Homo sapiens: one gene and its partner. The protein of the gene in region 1 interacts with the protein of each later gene in a biochemical or structural test. Each region holds a gene or a part of one and is shown on either strand. Other genes may lie near its edges.

Evidence for each region. Proteins that work in one complex are often made in the same cells at the same time.
Region 2: the proteins of KIT (region 1) and PLCG1 form a complex in vitro, tested with the Homo sapiens proteins (3 studies listed by BioGRID and IntAct, with this or other methods).

What each region holds. Positions count from the first base shown.
Region 1 is NC_000004.12:54,723,922-54,730,958, reverse strand, and holds part of KIT (mast/stem cell growth factor receptor Kit isoform 1 precursor), read right to left. Parts: intron 5,103-7,037; coding exon 4,909-5,102; intron 3,742-4,908; coding exon 3,635-3,741; intron 3,544-3,634; coding exon 3,417-3,543; intron 3,137-3,416; coding exon 3,032-3,136; intron 2,949-3,031; coding exon 2,838-2,948; intron 1,625-2,837; coding exon 1,474-1,624; intron 1-1,473. UniProt on the Homo sapiens protein: Tyrosine-protein kinase that acts as a cell-surface receptor for the cytokine KITLG/SCF and plays an essential role in the regulation of cell survival and proliferation, hematopoiesis, stem cell maintenance, gametogenesis, mast cell development, migration and function, and in melanogenesis.
Region 2 is NC_000020.11:41,161,511-41,168,547, reverse strand, and holds part of PLCG1 (1-phosphatidylinositol 4,5-bisphosphate phosphodiesterase gamma-1), read right to left. Parts: intron 6,097-7,037; coding exon 6,012-6,096; intron 5,907-6,011; coding exon 5,823-5,906; intron 5,591-5,822; coding exon 5,556-5,590; intron 5,346-5,555; coding exon 5,273-5,345; intron 5,171-5,272; coding exon 5,069-5,170; intron 4,834-5,068; coding exon 4,715-4,833; intron 4,628-4,714; coding exon 4,542-4,627; intron 4,468-4,541; coding exon 4,347-4,467; intron 3,616-4,346; coding exon 3,447-3,615; intron 3,304-3,446; coding exon 3,181-3,303; intron 3,099-3,180; coding exon 2,997-3,098; intron 2,910-2,996; coding exon 2,722-2,909; intron 2,355-2,721; coding exon 2,154-2,354; intron 2,073-2,153; coding exon 1,953-2,072; intron 1,870-1,952; coding exon 1,689-1,869; intron 697-1,688; coding exon 619-696; intron 1-618. UniProt on the Homo sapiens protein: Mediates the production of the second messenger molecules diacylglycerol (DAG) and inositol 1,4,5-trisphosphate (IP3). Plays an important role in the regulation of intracellular signaling cascades.

The DNA of each region.
Region 1 (7,037 bases):
AAAGAAGAGCTTCCAAGACGTGTTATGCAGGAGGCAGAGATCGTTAACATATAGTGACTGATGGAGGAAGGTTTAAAAAAAAATCAAGTTGGTTCAGATAAACACCAATAATTTGGATGATTTTCTGAACCATCTGGACCTCTTCAATCTGCAACATTTGGCTGGAGACTCTTCAAGATTTCTAGTACTTCCTGCTTCTGATTAGCATAGAAACACCATGACAACAATCTCCTTCAGAGTGTGCTGGTGGTTCCAATCCCATATGGGATCCCAAAGCACAAAGAACATCACACAGGATTGAACAATTTAGGCCATTATATCAGAAAGTTAAAGGATATATATAGGGCCAAGGTTTCGGAAAGAAGCAAAATGGCTCATTTCTTCATATAATGAGCACATGCCCAGGAGAAACTAACAAAAAGTGGTTTTGTACAGTTTCTACTACCACTTTAAACTACTCAAGTTTATAGGATTAAAAAAAAATAAAAAGTTTCACCTGGGGTTTTAAACTTTAGCCAGAGGTACAGAAAATGGCTTTAAGGGGTAATTGCCCATCAATAATATTTACTGAGGTCTCCTTGAGGACCTGGTGTTAAGAGTTCAGGAGGCAATGTCTTGCCATTGCAAGATGCAGTGGATATAAAGTGCATGAAAAGGATAGGAGAAATCTACCACACAACTGCAGCAATATACAGTATAGGGGACTGGGCAAAATAACCATGACTTCTGTTGGACTGGGTACATCTAGGAAGTCTTCTCAAATGGTGGCCCTTAAGAGCATTTCCAAAGAAAGAATAGGCAAGATATGAGAAGAATTCTTTTCTGGTTGTAAGTCAAACTCAAAGCTCTTTATACATGATTCAAATTCAGAATGGCATCAATGATGAAAGAGATGAGAATAATGTCCAGAATTTTTAAAAAATGTGCTGGAGTAGTTATGTCTTTTAATAGCATGATGAAATAAAAAGGGCAAGAGGCAAGGTATACAGGAATAATCCAGAGGTCGATGGCAAGAAGCCTACATGTGGAGATATGTTCAGAGCTCTTTGTCATTCTGCTAAAGGTTTTAAAGGGACTTTACTGTGGCAACTTGAGAGGCTTTAGCATTTTCCCTATAAACAGTATCTCACTGGAAACATGCATGTAGTACCAAGCTCAATAGTATAAATGGAAATACATGCAGGACAGAACCGTAAGAGAAACAGATATAGAATGCATTCAGTTGCATGGAACTAAAGTGTAGAAGAAAACTGAAAATACATTTTTAAAAAATCAGCAAAAATCTAGGTTTGAATCTTTAAAAACACAATTTAACTTTCTAAACTGTTAATCACATTTAAATGATTTAATAATTTTGATTTCATACCTCAGAGTACCTCAGTTCATTTTTTAAAGAATCAGCCTTGATTGCAAACCCTTATGACCCCATGAACTGCCTGTCAACAGCTAACTATTTATGTAAATCAGTCTTACCAGGAAGACTCCTTTGAATGCAGAAGATTCTTATAAAGTGCAGCTTCTGCATGATCTTCCTGCTTTGAACAAATAAATGAATCACGTTTTCTTCTCAAAAAATTCAAAAGATCACCATAGCAACAATATTCTGTAATGACCAGGGTGGGCCCTAAAAGCACATAAGAAAAGGTTAGAAAGAAGGTGAGATATATAGATTAATTCTGCCTCCCATAAAAATACCCAAGGGTGGTCATGGCCATTAATATTCAGCTTCAGTGGATCAGACTACTTAGTCCCAATACAATCCCATATATTAACACTGCTTATCAAAAAAGCAGCCTTATGTGGAGTAACATAAAACAAGCAAGCCTCTTTTAACCTGAATTTCTAAGTGACATTAGTATTTGGAGCCAAGCATGACTGCTGGTTTTACAGAGAGAAGTTACTGCTTTCAAAGATTCTACTATTATCAAGCTTCCTACGTGAATCCTCTGGTTCACTTCTGTTTACAGCAGGGCTTCACACACTCTCTGTAACGTTATTATGGAAATAATGAAGGCACAAACTGTGGCATAGTGGGAAAATCAGCCACAAGGAGCAGCCAGCTGGGACAAGACTGGAAAGTGAGTGAAAACCTAAAATGACCTGTGTTCTGAGCGCTACTAGTTGAAAAATTTTTTGGTGCTATGAATGTTTAAACTGTAGTTTAGAAGTAACAGGCAACTAATTAACTTGGGTAAGAAATTTTCTCATGAACAATTCATGATGTGGTGAAGCAACATTTATGGGGATTATTGGAAGACATGATATAAGGCTGTCAACTTTATCGTGGATCTCCAGAAACAGCTCATTTTACACATCTTTGTTTCTTTCAACTGAAATACTTTCTGCAAACATCACAGACATCCTTGATGGGAACTTCAACTAAGGCTTCAAATTGGAAACTTATTTTTAGAGAAGTGAAATGTTTGCCTCATTTGGTGTATATTTGAGAACCAGTAGGCTTAGGCGCCTGTTTTAAATTGTAGTATGCAAATTAATATTAACCCTTTCAGTGGCTACATATGATCAAGAAATGTATAAAGCTTACAAGATAACAGAAGCCTTCTGGTCGGGATGAGATATTCAAGAGGCTGATGTCGTTGATGTTACAAATACGACAATAACTAGGGTATGTCCTGGGCTGTTCTACCCCATAATGATAAAATTAAAATCTGCATTCTTAAGAACAATGAGGAAAACAAAATCTAGCAAGAGAGAACAACAGTCTGGGTAAAAAAATCTTCCAAGCAGTTTATAATCTAGCATTGCCAAAATCATATTAAAATGTCATGTTTTGATAACCTGACAGACAATAAAAGGCAGCTTGGACACGGCTTTACCTCCAATGGTGCAGGCTCCAAGTAGATTCACAATATTCATGTGATTACCAAGGTAACTCAGGACTTTGAGTTCAGACATGAGGGCTTCCCGTTCTGTCAAATGGGCACTCGCTAAAATTGGAAACATGCATTTTAGCAAAAAGCACAACTGGCAAACTGATGTCAAGCGCATGCAGTACCATACAGGAACTTACGCTTGAGCATCTTTACAGCGACAGTCATGGCCGCATCTGACTTAATTAAGCCATAAGCAGTTGCCTCAACAACCTTCCCGAAAGCTCCAGCACCCAGGGTTTTCCCTGTAGGAAGGAAGACAACAAGGTAAGTGGTGATGGTGCTGGTGGTGGAATTGAAGGACCATTTGTGCAGTTTCAAAATCAATAAAGGAATTAAAAACAATGTTGTCCAGAGACATTTTCCTACGATGTTCTCTATGGCAAACCTATCAAAAGGGGCGCAATTTCACAGAAAACTCATTGTTTCAGGTGGAACAAAACAAAGGAAGCCACTGGAGTTCCTTAAAGTCACTGTTATGTGTACCCAAAAAGGTGACATGGAAAGCCCCTGTTTCATACTGACCAAAACTCAGCCTGTTTCTGGGAAACTCCCATTTGTGATCATAAGGAAGTTGTGTTGGGTCTATGTAAACATAATTGTTTCCATTTATCTCCTCAACAACCTTCCACTGTACTTCATACATGGGTTTCTGTGGGGAGAAAGGGAAAAATAGATCACCTTTTAATAATTATTGTCTCAGTCATTAGAGCACTCTGGAGAGAGAACAAATAAATGGTTACCTGTAAATATTTGTAGGTCAGAATCATCACAATAATGCACATCATGCCAGCTACGATTACGAAACCAATCAGCAAAGGAGTGAACAGGGTGTGGGGATGGATTTGCTCTACAATGGAAGAGAAATGTGGAATCACAAACTTTGGCAGGATGGGATCTCTACCACAGCCACTCAGTCCCAAACTGACCCCACCTCCCAACTCACAGCCCATGGCAGGATGCAAAGCTATGTGAGTCTCAGAGCTTCACCTTGGTTACATTGTACTCTTGTTATTCAAATGAATCTTTAAAAATATAACTTGAAACCACAATACTGCAGAATAGAAGTTGAGATTTCTGTAGAAAAGGAATAATTTATGCTGTTTTTCAATGAAAAGCAACATCTGAATGCACTTTATACTTCAATCAAATTCCTGCCTTGTACAACTTTAAAAAAAAGAAGCTTCCTTTATGGACGGTTTATATTTTCTTCTTTAAGCTTTCCTGTATTTTCCAAATTTTCTACACTGAGCATGAATGTCTTTCACAACCAAAAAAAAAAAAAACATTTTTAAGGTATTCTTTTCGTTGCCCTGTCTGAAAAACATGGAAGATTCTTCCCCTCACTACTCAAAACCTGAGAAAACACGCCACTTTTTGGCACTAGTCTTTGCCGACTCAAAAAACGAAAACAACAAACAAACAAACAAAACCCCAAGAAGGCCTAAAAAGTAAGTGCCCAGTTTCTTTGTCTTCCCACTTTGTACCAATTCATCAGTTTGCCCAAAAGATCTTTTAACTTGTTAAGAGAGTTAGTCACACATGAATCAAATTTTAAATATTTTAAAGAAATAACTTGCTAACATGACTTCATAAAGGCAGTGTTAACTTTTGGATACAGTGTCTGGCAAAGTGTTAAAATAATTCATTTTAAATAACTGAAATTTTTAATTGAATTTAAATTTTAGATTGTTCTAATTCTGTTTGGGTGTAAGGTAAATATATTCCCCCATTTGCTTTCTCTAGCTCTTTTTAATGGAGACAATTGTAAATATACAACTAATAGAGACACACATACATATAAAATATATAAAGTAGCATGGTTAAAATTGCTCTGGTAAAAGCATATACTTAACAAGCTAGTACAAAATGAAACTTAGTGAGTTTGATGACAGTATGGTGTGATGCATGTATTACCAGAAATGACATGGTCAATGTTGGAATGAACTTAAAATCATGACTGATATGGTAGACAGAGCCTAAACATCCCCTTAAATTGGATTAAAAAGAAATATACCTTTGTTGTTACCTTTAAATGCAAAGTTAAAATAGGCAGAAGTCTTGCCCACATCGTTGTAAGCCTTACATTCAACCGTGCCATTGTGCTTGAATGCACTAGAATCTATAGAACTCTGAACCACTAGCTTTCCAAACGGTGGCCCAGATGAGTTTAGTGTCTGCACATCCACTGGCAGTACAGAAGCAGAGCATCTAAAGGGAAGAAAACAAAAGCCCTGGCTTACTCTAGGAAAATAAATAAATACATAAAACACTTGGGATGTGGCATACTTTTAAAACAAAGTTAGAGGTTCATAATCAACAGAAAATGTCCTTTTACAAGTGTCTAAGAATAAGCACTTTGGTGACCTAGTGAGTGAAAAAAGCACTGGGGAAGAGAAGGCAGAGGAGGCTTCGGAGTCAGATGCGGGTTTGAATCCTGATGAGTTTTTAACCCCCACCAACACTGAGTTTCTACGACTGTAAAACAGGGATAGTAATACCCATTGCAGAGGGTTACTGAAAGGATTGGAAAGGAATTCAATAAAATGGCAGGCATATATGCTGGTACACAGTAGATCCCTAAAATAAACAAGCTTCAAAAGGGTACACGAATGGTTGAAAAGAAATAGCATAGAGGAGGAAAGCATAAAAAATCTTCAAGGGGCCGGGCGCAGTAGCTCACACCTGTAATCTCAGCACTTTAGGAGGCCGAGGTGGGCAGATCACCTGAGGTCAGGAGTTCAAGACCAGACTGGCCAACATGGTGAAACCTCGTCTCTACTAAAAATACAAAAATTAGCTGGGCGTGGTGGCAGGCGCCTGTAATCCCAGCTACTCGGGAGGCTGAGGCAGGAGAATCACTTGAACCCTGGAGGCAGAGGTTGCAGTGAGCCAAGATCACTCCATTGCACTCCAGCCTGGGCAAGAGAGTGAGACTCGGTCTCAACAACAACAACAACAACAAAATCAAGGATGTAGACCAGAAAATAGTCAAAGTGAGGACTGAAGTTTGAGTTCTAAGCAGGAAGGCCTAGTTATACTGCAGGTGGCTGAGACCACCACTGCAAGGGATCCTTTTCATGAGCCAGACCCCGACTTCCCTATTCTAAACACCTAGCTATTCCCTGTTTCCTTTCTTAACACCTACATACATTCATTGTTTATTCCATCTATTATGTGTTTCTACCCACTAGAACAAGCTTATCCAACCTGCAGCCCACATGTGGCCCAGGACGGCTTTGAATGCGACCCAACACAAATTCATGAAGCTTAAAACATTATGAGATTTTTTTGCAATTTTTTTTTTTTTTAGCTCATCAGCTATCGTTAGTGTTACTATATTTTATGTGTGGCCTAAGACAGTCGTCTTCTTCCAGTGTAGCCCAGGGAAGCTAAAAGACTGAACACCCCTGCACTAGAACATAAACTCATAAAGGCAAAAAGACTTGGGTGTGTTCTGTCCATTAGAATAGTGTCTGGTACACACTTGCCACTCCCTGTGTATCTACTGAATGAATGCCTGTAACTACAGGGCTTGCTTCTGCTGTGGCCATTCCTCCCAGGGGCCTTGAACCCTACTTAGTATTCCCCAAAAGAAAACACTCTCCTAAACCCCAGCTGAAAACAGCAATCCGATGTAACCCCTTCCAACTTGTTGTGATAAAGAGGCTTATTCCATGAAAAATAAAATTTCTGCGACCATACTAACTATTCAATTGTGATGTTAACCTGGGCTTTTAAAGCCTGAGCATAAAATAGCAATTGATGGATAAAAACAGCTGTGGTGACCCCATTTTCGTCTTCAGGTAATGCAAAAGGGCAATTTAAGGCTTAAGTGTGGATGGTGAGGGGCAAGCAGCACAGTGCCAGATGTTCTCTGTTCAGGGGCTGGGCACATTATCAAGAAGAAACCCTTTTTAAAAGCGGTCGCTTGCAAATGCCATATGTATGTTGTAATTGTGCGATCATTACTTTTTGGTAACTTGGCAATTAACTACTGAGGTAATTTTTTCATGATAACTACAGTCACATTTCCCACACACATTACCTCCTGTGTATAGAATGGAAATCTAATTACTCTGTCCTGCAAAATTGCTTTATCTACCTGCAGGCTAGAAATTGCATGATAAATCCAGAAAGATAACA
Region 2 (7,037 bases), on another chromosome or scaffold:
TGAAATACCTCGGGACCCAGGTGGAACCTTAAGCCCCACCCTGGGCCACAGGGAGAACCTTGAATCCGCTCCCAGGAGTCAGGGCTGGCAGGCCAAGAAGGCAGGGTCTGCAGTGGCCCTGAGTGCCTCCCCGGGACCTGGAAGCATATGGGGCCTGGATGGGACCCTACCACTCATCTGTGAAGTGGAAAGAAAAACTTCCTTCCAGGTCCCCTGGCTGTGGAGGGGAGGGGGTGAGAAATAGGGCCCAGGCCTTTTTAGAGAAAAAGGCAAAACAAAAAAGAACCTGTGTAACAGGGCTCCATGAGGCCGGGGAATGAGTGGCCAGTGTGCCTCCCAGCTCCTACCCCGCTGCTGCCCAGGAAGGAAACAGGGGTCACCCACAGGAGCAGTTTAAAGGGTCACTGCTGACTTAAGGGGTAGGGGCTAGGGAGTGGGTCGGCCCTGGGAGACCTGCGGTCGCTCACCAACCACACATCTCTCACAACCTCTTGGGCCTCGGAAAACCACAACCACCACTTCTCCACAAAGACCACAGATGGCCCAGAACACAGAAATGAAGCCCCAAGCAGCTGGGGACCCTCCCCAGCTTCCTATGCCCAGAGGCCTGAGCTGTACCTTGAAAGTTGGCATAGGGTTTGCCTCTACATAGAAGCCAGGGTTGCGTCCCTCATACAGGGCCCCGTAGTCAGGCTCCTGGAAACAGGACACAATGGGATATGTTAATGCCCCAGAGCCCAGAGGTAGAAAGCAGCTACTGGTTTCTGGAGCAGCTTCCCTTTCCCCCAGTGCAGCAAACTTGCACCTGATCCACAGGGATCCTTCGACCTCAGTAGAGACGGCTTCAGAGGCCTCAGGCCCGGCCTCACTGTTCCCTTTCCTTTCTTCACATTCTTACATGTAAGGCCCAGCCCAGGATTCTAAAATCTCTCAGGTCCTAAATGCCCAAACTCCCAAGTATTTCTGAGCTATGTGCAGGTGGGCCCTTCACAGACTACCCATATTCAGTGCTTTAGTTCAGTGGCTTGTTGGTTCACTGCTGAGCCCAAAGTCAGGAAAAGCCTTCCCACTCCCCACATTCCTCCTGCCGCTCCTCTCCATCACTTGAGTCCCAGGTGCCAGTGGACAACAGGCCTCTCTCTCCCCAGCCAGCCCTGTCTACTGACGACAGCAGTCTCTCAACTGATCTTCTGGTCCTAGACCCCTTCCTTCTGTCCAGGGCCCTTATCACCAGCTGTGCTGCCATGGGTCCTGACTTTTTCCCTCACTGGTCTCACCTCCTGTGGCTCTGCCCTCCATACCATCCACCAGGCGGAGGCTCCACAACCACTCTTGGGTAGCCTCATCTCATCTGCCCTAGGACAGAGTCCAGGCCAAGCCCAGGTGGATGAGTTTCCACTGTGTGCACCTCTCCCAGTGTGAGCCCCAGAACCTCCTCACTCCACATCTTGACTCATGAGGAACCCTCTGCTTATGTGCCTGTCCCCATCCTTAAAGATGCTGCTCAGATGTCCCCTCCTGCAGACACCCTCCTGGTACCCACACTGTGGCTCCCAGCTGGAGTCAGGGGCCCTCCCACGAACTTCTACAACACACCAGGTCTTGCTGTTACACACATCCAGAGACTGGTAAGATTCTGGGTCTCTCCTGCCTCCCCTGCCATGCCCCGTCTACCACAGCCCCCTCACAGCTGTGCCAATCTTCTCCAGTGCCTCCTCGTTGATGGGATAGCGCAGCTTCATCTTGCGGTATAGCGGGTGTTTCTCATAGTAGCTGATGAGGTCAACAAGGCTGTCGAACTCCGAGTTCCCTAGCATCACTGTCTGGCCCTCTTGCTGGACACGGCAATGCTTGATCTTGCCCTCAGCCCTTCACAAGGACAAAACAGTCACACAGGGTCAGGGCAGCTCAGACCCAAGCAAGGCCCCACAACCCAGTGCCACACCCCTCACCGGAAAGAGATGGCATATGAGTTGGGTTCATTCCGCTTCCGCACCAGGAAGGCCCCATCACGAGGGACGCGCATTAGCATGTGCTCAGCCTGTGCTCTGGTCAGGCTCGCGTGGTACCACCTGAGAACAGGCAGAGTCAGGCCCGGCCAGCACCACCCATGGCCCTGCCCTGCCTTGTCCGCCCCCAGGCCCTTCCCTCACTCTTTGCTCTCGTGGGCGTTGGTCTGTGGGACAGGCTCTGAAAGTCGCATCTCAAACTCATTACAGCGCAGGGGCACCTGCTGGTAGTGCGTGATGAGGTCATAGAGGGAGTCAAAGACGAGGTTGTCTGTCAAGAAGAACTTGGGGGTCCCAGCATCTTGCCGGGAGTGGATACGGCAGTGCTGGACTTTCCCGTTCCGCCTGTGGAAGACACAGAGTGAGGGAGGCTGGGGAAAACAGGCCAGGGCCCCAAAGACCAAGTTCCACCCCAAATGAGGGTGGAACTCAAGGAGGGAGCCTCAAGGAGGGAGGCCAATCTCCTGAGGAGCTCAGGTGTGGGCAGTCACATGAACCAAAGGTGTGGGCTTCAAATGAACCGAAAAGGGAGGGGTATGGGGGGGGGGTGAGACAGAGAGTGTGTGTGTGTATGTAGGTGAAATTATGTTCCATGTAAAGCCTAATTATTGTCCTGGATCAAAGGCTCAAATGTTAACTGATTATCTCTGGGTGATGTGATGTCTGTGTACACACGCTGACTGAACATACGCATCTGCATGGGAAGTGTTACCAGAAAGAGAGCGTGTAGTCGCCCACGAAGGTCTCACTCTCTCGCACGAGGAAGGAGCCGTCAGGGGCTCCGGTCTCGATGCAGTACTCAGTAAGCAGGCGCTCAGCGATGTGACGCCCGTCACGCCCTGCCCCTAGCTTCCCATGGAACCACTTCTCATTGGAGTGCAGCTCTGTGCTGCTGCTGACCTGTCAGGGGAAGGCAACAGCAAAGATACTGTGACCCTGGCCCAGGCCTGACCTGGCCCAGCCCCCAGACCTGAGCTGGTTCCTCACCTCCTTGGGCTCCTCCTCATCCTCGTTGCCCTGGTCACTGCTGGTCTCCTCAGAGTAGTAGATCTTGCTGCTGGTCAGAACAAAGTAGTGGGGATACCATTCCTGGAACAGACCAAAGAGGGACTTGTGAGCCAGGGTCCTCACACCCACTGGCCTACCACCCCCAGCCTGGCCCAGTCCTCACGTGGTTCACAGGGTCCTCCAGGTAGAGGATGCCATTCTTGATAGAGTTGCTGATGTCGTTCTCAGAGTACATCATGGATGTAGGCACCTCCTCGTAGGCACTGCCCTCAGCCAGCTTCTTGTGCTGTAGGGGCAACCAGAACAGGGCAATGCAGACCCCAGTCCTCACCCCACCTCCTCACCCAGGTTTAGGCCCAACAGCTGAAGCCATGGCCTGGGCAAGGCACTGAGAAGTGTGGGGCTTCCGCAATAAGCCCGCCACCCCACCTTGATGAGGATCTTCCTCTTAAGCTGGTTGGGTGAGGGGAGCCCGTCGGCAGAGATCTCCACGGGCTTGGTGAGGAGTGTGTCCCCCAGCACCTTCTTGAAGTATTGGGCCATGTTTCTCTGCTGGGCAATGCTGCAGTGGTCCTCAATGGACAGGATGACTGGGTACCTGCGGGATGGGGGACAAGCACAGTGAAACAGATTCTGCAATTCTCTGGGTCTAAGTAGCCCCTCACAGTGAGCTGTTGGAAGCCAAGGGCCTGGGGGCTTCTTGTCTGTAAAAACTATCCCAGAAAAGAGGCAGGCCATAGCCACTGGTGGGGCAGAGAGGGGTTCTACAGCTGTGGCAGCAGTGGAAACCAAAGGGTGGCAACTGATGCAGTCCCGAGCTGGCCCAATTATGGAGGCTGCTCAGCAGTGCAAGAAAAATGTTTCACACCAAAGAGGCCAGGAGAGAGGAGAAGCCTCCAAAGTTAGCTGTTAGAGCCCTGGTGAGCTAAGGGAGACCAGTGACCACAGTTTAAGCAGTAAACAGAATTGAAGGAATGGGACACAGGGAACAGAGACAATCTTCTGGGCTGTGAGGGCAAAGGAGTTGGCAGGACACTGGCCTAAAGAAACCAGGGCATGTTTTCTGAAGATGAGAAGAGCATGTGTTCTACAGTCTAAAGGACCCATGAAGAAGAGAGTGGGCCCAACACGTAGGAAACAGAAAGTGTAACTTGGGAAGCAACAGCTCAAGCAGGGAGCAGGTGACGAGGAGAGGCCAAGAGGAAGGACAAAGATGAAAGGCTGAGGGAGAGGGGACAGGGCATTTGAGGAGTCTTTCTGCCCTCTGTCCCTCTAGAACGAGAGACCTGGAGCCAAGTTAACCCCTGGGTCATCCAGCCTCCGACTCACTCTGAGGCCACAAAGGCATGCTCCTTGATGGTGTGCAGGACATCTGAGAACTTGATCTTGGTGGTAAGGGTGTGCCCATGGTAAATAACTGGCATCCCATCCGGGCCGTCCCAGCAGTCCACTGGGGAGCAACATCACCATGGTCAAGCGGGCAGGCCTCCCATCTTCCCTCCCCCAGCCCTGGACCCCACGCACACTCAATGCAGCGACAGCCCATCCGCAGGCAGCGAGCATAGGCTTCCAAGGAGGACTCACTGGAGAACTGGTCCCCGGTCAGGTACCTGGATAGGCAAGGAGAGGCAGGTAGGTATGGTCAGATGGGCCCTCCTGGGGAAGAAGCTGGGTGGGCCTGAAGGAGCCACACTCACGTGTTGTGCGAGGAGGAGATCCAGTAGTGGGAAAGAGGGTTGTTCATGGTGTCCGGGCATACTGCATCCAGCTGCGAGTTCCACACACTGTTCTCTTTGGAGAACAGGAAGGTGACAAACTGTCCAGAAACATGTGGAAGGGAAGAGACAGTGAGTCCCTGCCCTGTCCAACCCAAGATGGTAGGTTGGGGGTAGGAGAGAGAGTGCTCTGTCCCAACTGGGGGTGGGCAAGGTGCACAGTAGGTAGAAACAAGGTGGCATCCCTAAGGAGCGTCTAGCTCCTGGAGCCCGGGTGGGGTCCTGGTCACCCCTACTCATTCTCTTGACAAAAAATGGGTGAAACATCGGGCTCACCTCATCCAGGAAGAAGTATGGCTCCTCGATCTCTCGTAAGGGGTCTCGGAGGAAGCTGAGCATGAACTCCTGCACCTGGAGGCGATCAACAGCCCACAGCTCCTGATGGGGTAGGGAGGGCAGGGGATGAGAGAAGCCTCCAGTCAGGGATGAGCCCAGCCCCCCACAACCTACCAGCCTGGGCCAATGTCAGCCCAGCCATACCCCCTGGTAGTCAAGAAGGAACTGCTGGAACTCAGGAAGGGACACTCGGCAAAGCTCCGGCCGCTCCCCAGCCCTGCAGGGAGAGAAGGTAAGCTAGCTAGTATGGTCAACAGACAACAAGGTGCCCCACGGAAGGCAGAACCCAACTCCCAGCCAGCACAGCTTCCCAGAATGGTCCAGCATGGTTCCCTACTCCCACTGCCTCCCACCTGGATCAAGAATCGCCCAGTGGAGAGATGAAGGGGGCCCAGGGAAAACCCCACCTCCCCACTCCAAACCAAACCTCAGAGTACTGGCTTCCAAGAAGGGGAGGTCCATCTGCAGGAAACAGAACCTGGTCAGGGCAAGACCCCTGGGAGGCCATGTGGGAAATGGGCTAGTAAGAAGGCAGGCTAGAGCAGCAGATGGGGGCAGGCCTCAAGAGGAGAAGAACTGGAGAAATGGCACCCAAAAGCCCCTAAGCAGGGCAGCAGGGCTGAGGCAGGCAGAGCTGGGGTGTGGGGTGGAAGAGCAGGGGCAGGGGTTGAGGGAGGGCAGGTGGCTCATGCACCGTCTTCTGGGCGCTGTACATGAGGCTGCGGTACAGCTGAGCAAACTGCCCGTAGGTGATGTCCCCGCTGCGCTGCTCCAGGTCCTGCATGGTATAGAGCAGGAGTGCCAGTCAGGCAGTCAGGCCCCCAGCTGAAGGGCTCTTGGCTTCCCCTGCCCCCATCTACAGACAGCCCTGGGTGGCACTTACCGTCAGCCGCTCTCGGAGGAAGCGCATGTTGGGGACCCGGTAGTTGACCTGGGACAGCATGTTCTTCAGGTCCTTGGCTGATATACTGAGAAAACAGGGACATCCCCAGTGGTCTCATCCAGCTTCTCATGACCTCTGACCTGTGGGTCGAGCCCACCTGGGGCTGGACAGGTAAACAACACTATTCTGGGAACCTGGAGGCCTGAGGGCAAGACTGGATCAGAACCCATGGGGTGAGGTTAGTCCCTTCCTTTCTTTGGACCTCAGTTCCTCATCTGAGCAAAAAAAAAAAAAAAAAAAACAAAAACAAAACAAACAAAAAAAACCTGTAATTCTGGCAAGGAAGATGTGAACAGATTCAGTAAAGTGGGTCAGGCATGGGAGGAAGAAAAACCACACTCCAGGCCTCCCCTCCTACCGGCACTGCTGAGGCCTGTGCCAAGGTGGCAGTCAGCCTATCCAAGACAGAAGGCAGGGCTCACTCACAACTTCCCTGTTGGGGGCAGCATGGCAGCAGGTCCCTACCTGCTGCCCACTGGGATGCTGGGAGTTTGGTCCTCAGAACCCACTAACCCATGAGAGGGAGGAAGGAGGAGGTGCATGCTCCACCAAATACAATGACTGGCAACTGGGCACCTCCTGGGGCTAGACAGGGCCTGGCTCCAGGAAAGAAACTGAGAGAACAAGCGCCCCTGCTCTCCAGGGGTGTCCTGCCCAGGATGTGAGGCTGGGGACACTGCTGGACCTGGCAACAGGATGGACAAGAAGGGGGAAGGGGGGGGCTTTCTCTCCTGGAAGGTGGTGTCAAGGAGGGGAGGGGAGGGTGGGACCACCTCCTCTGGGCCCCAAGAGCCTGGGAGGAGGCACCAAAATTCCCCGAGGGGGCTGAGCGCCACACTGAGTGGATCAAGCACTGCGGAGGGAGGGCTGGCTCTATATAGGCGCCCCCTCCTCTGATCCTCAGTCACCCAGGAGGTAGGTGCTATCAGGGTCCTTGTTTTCCAGTGAGGAAACAGAGGCCTTCTG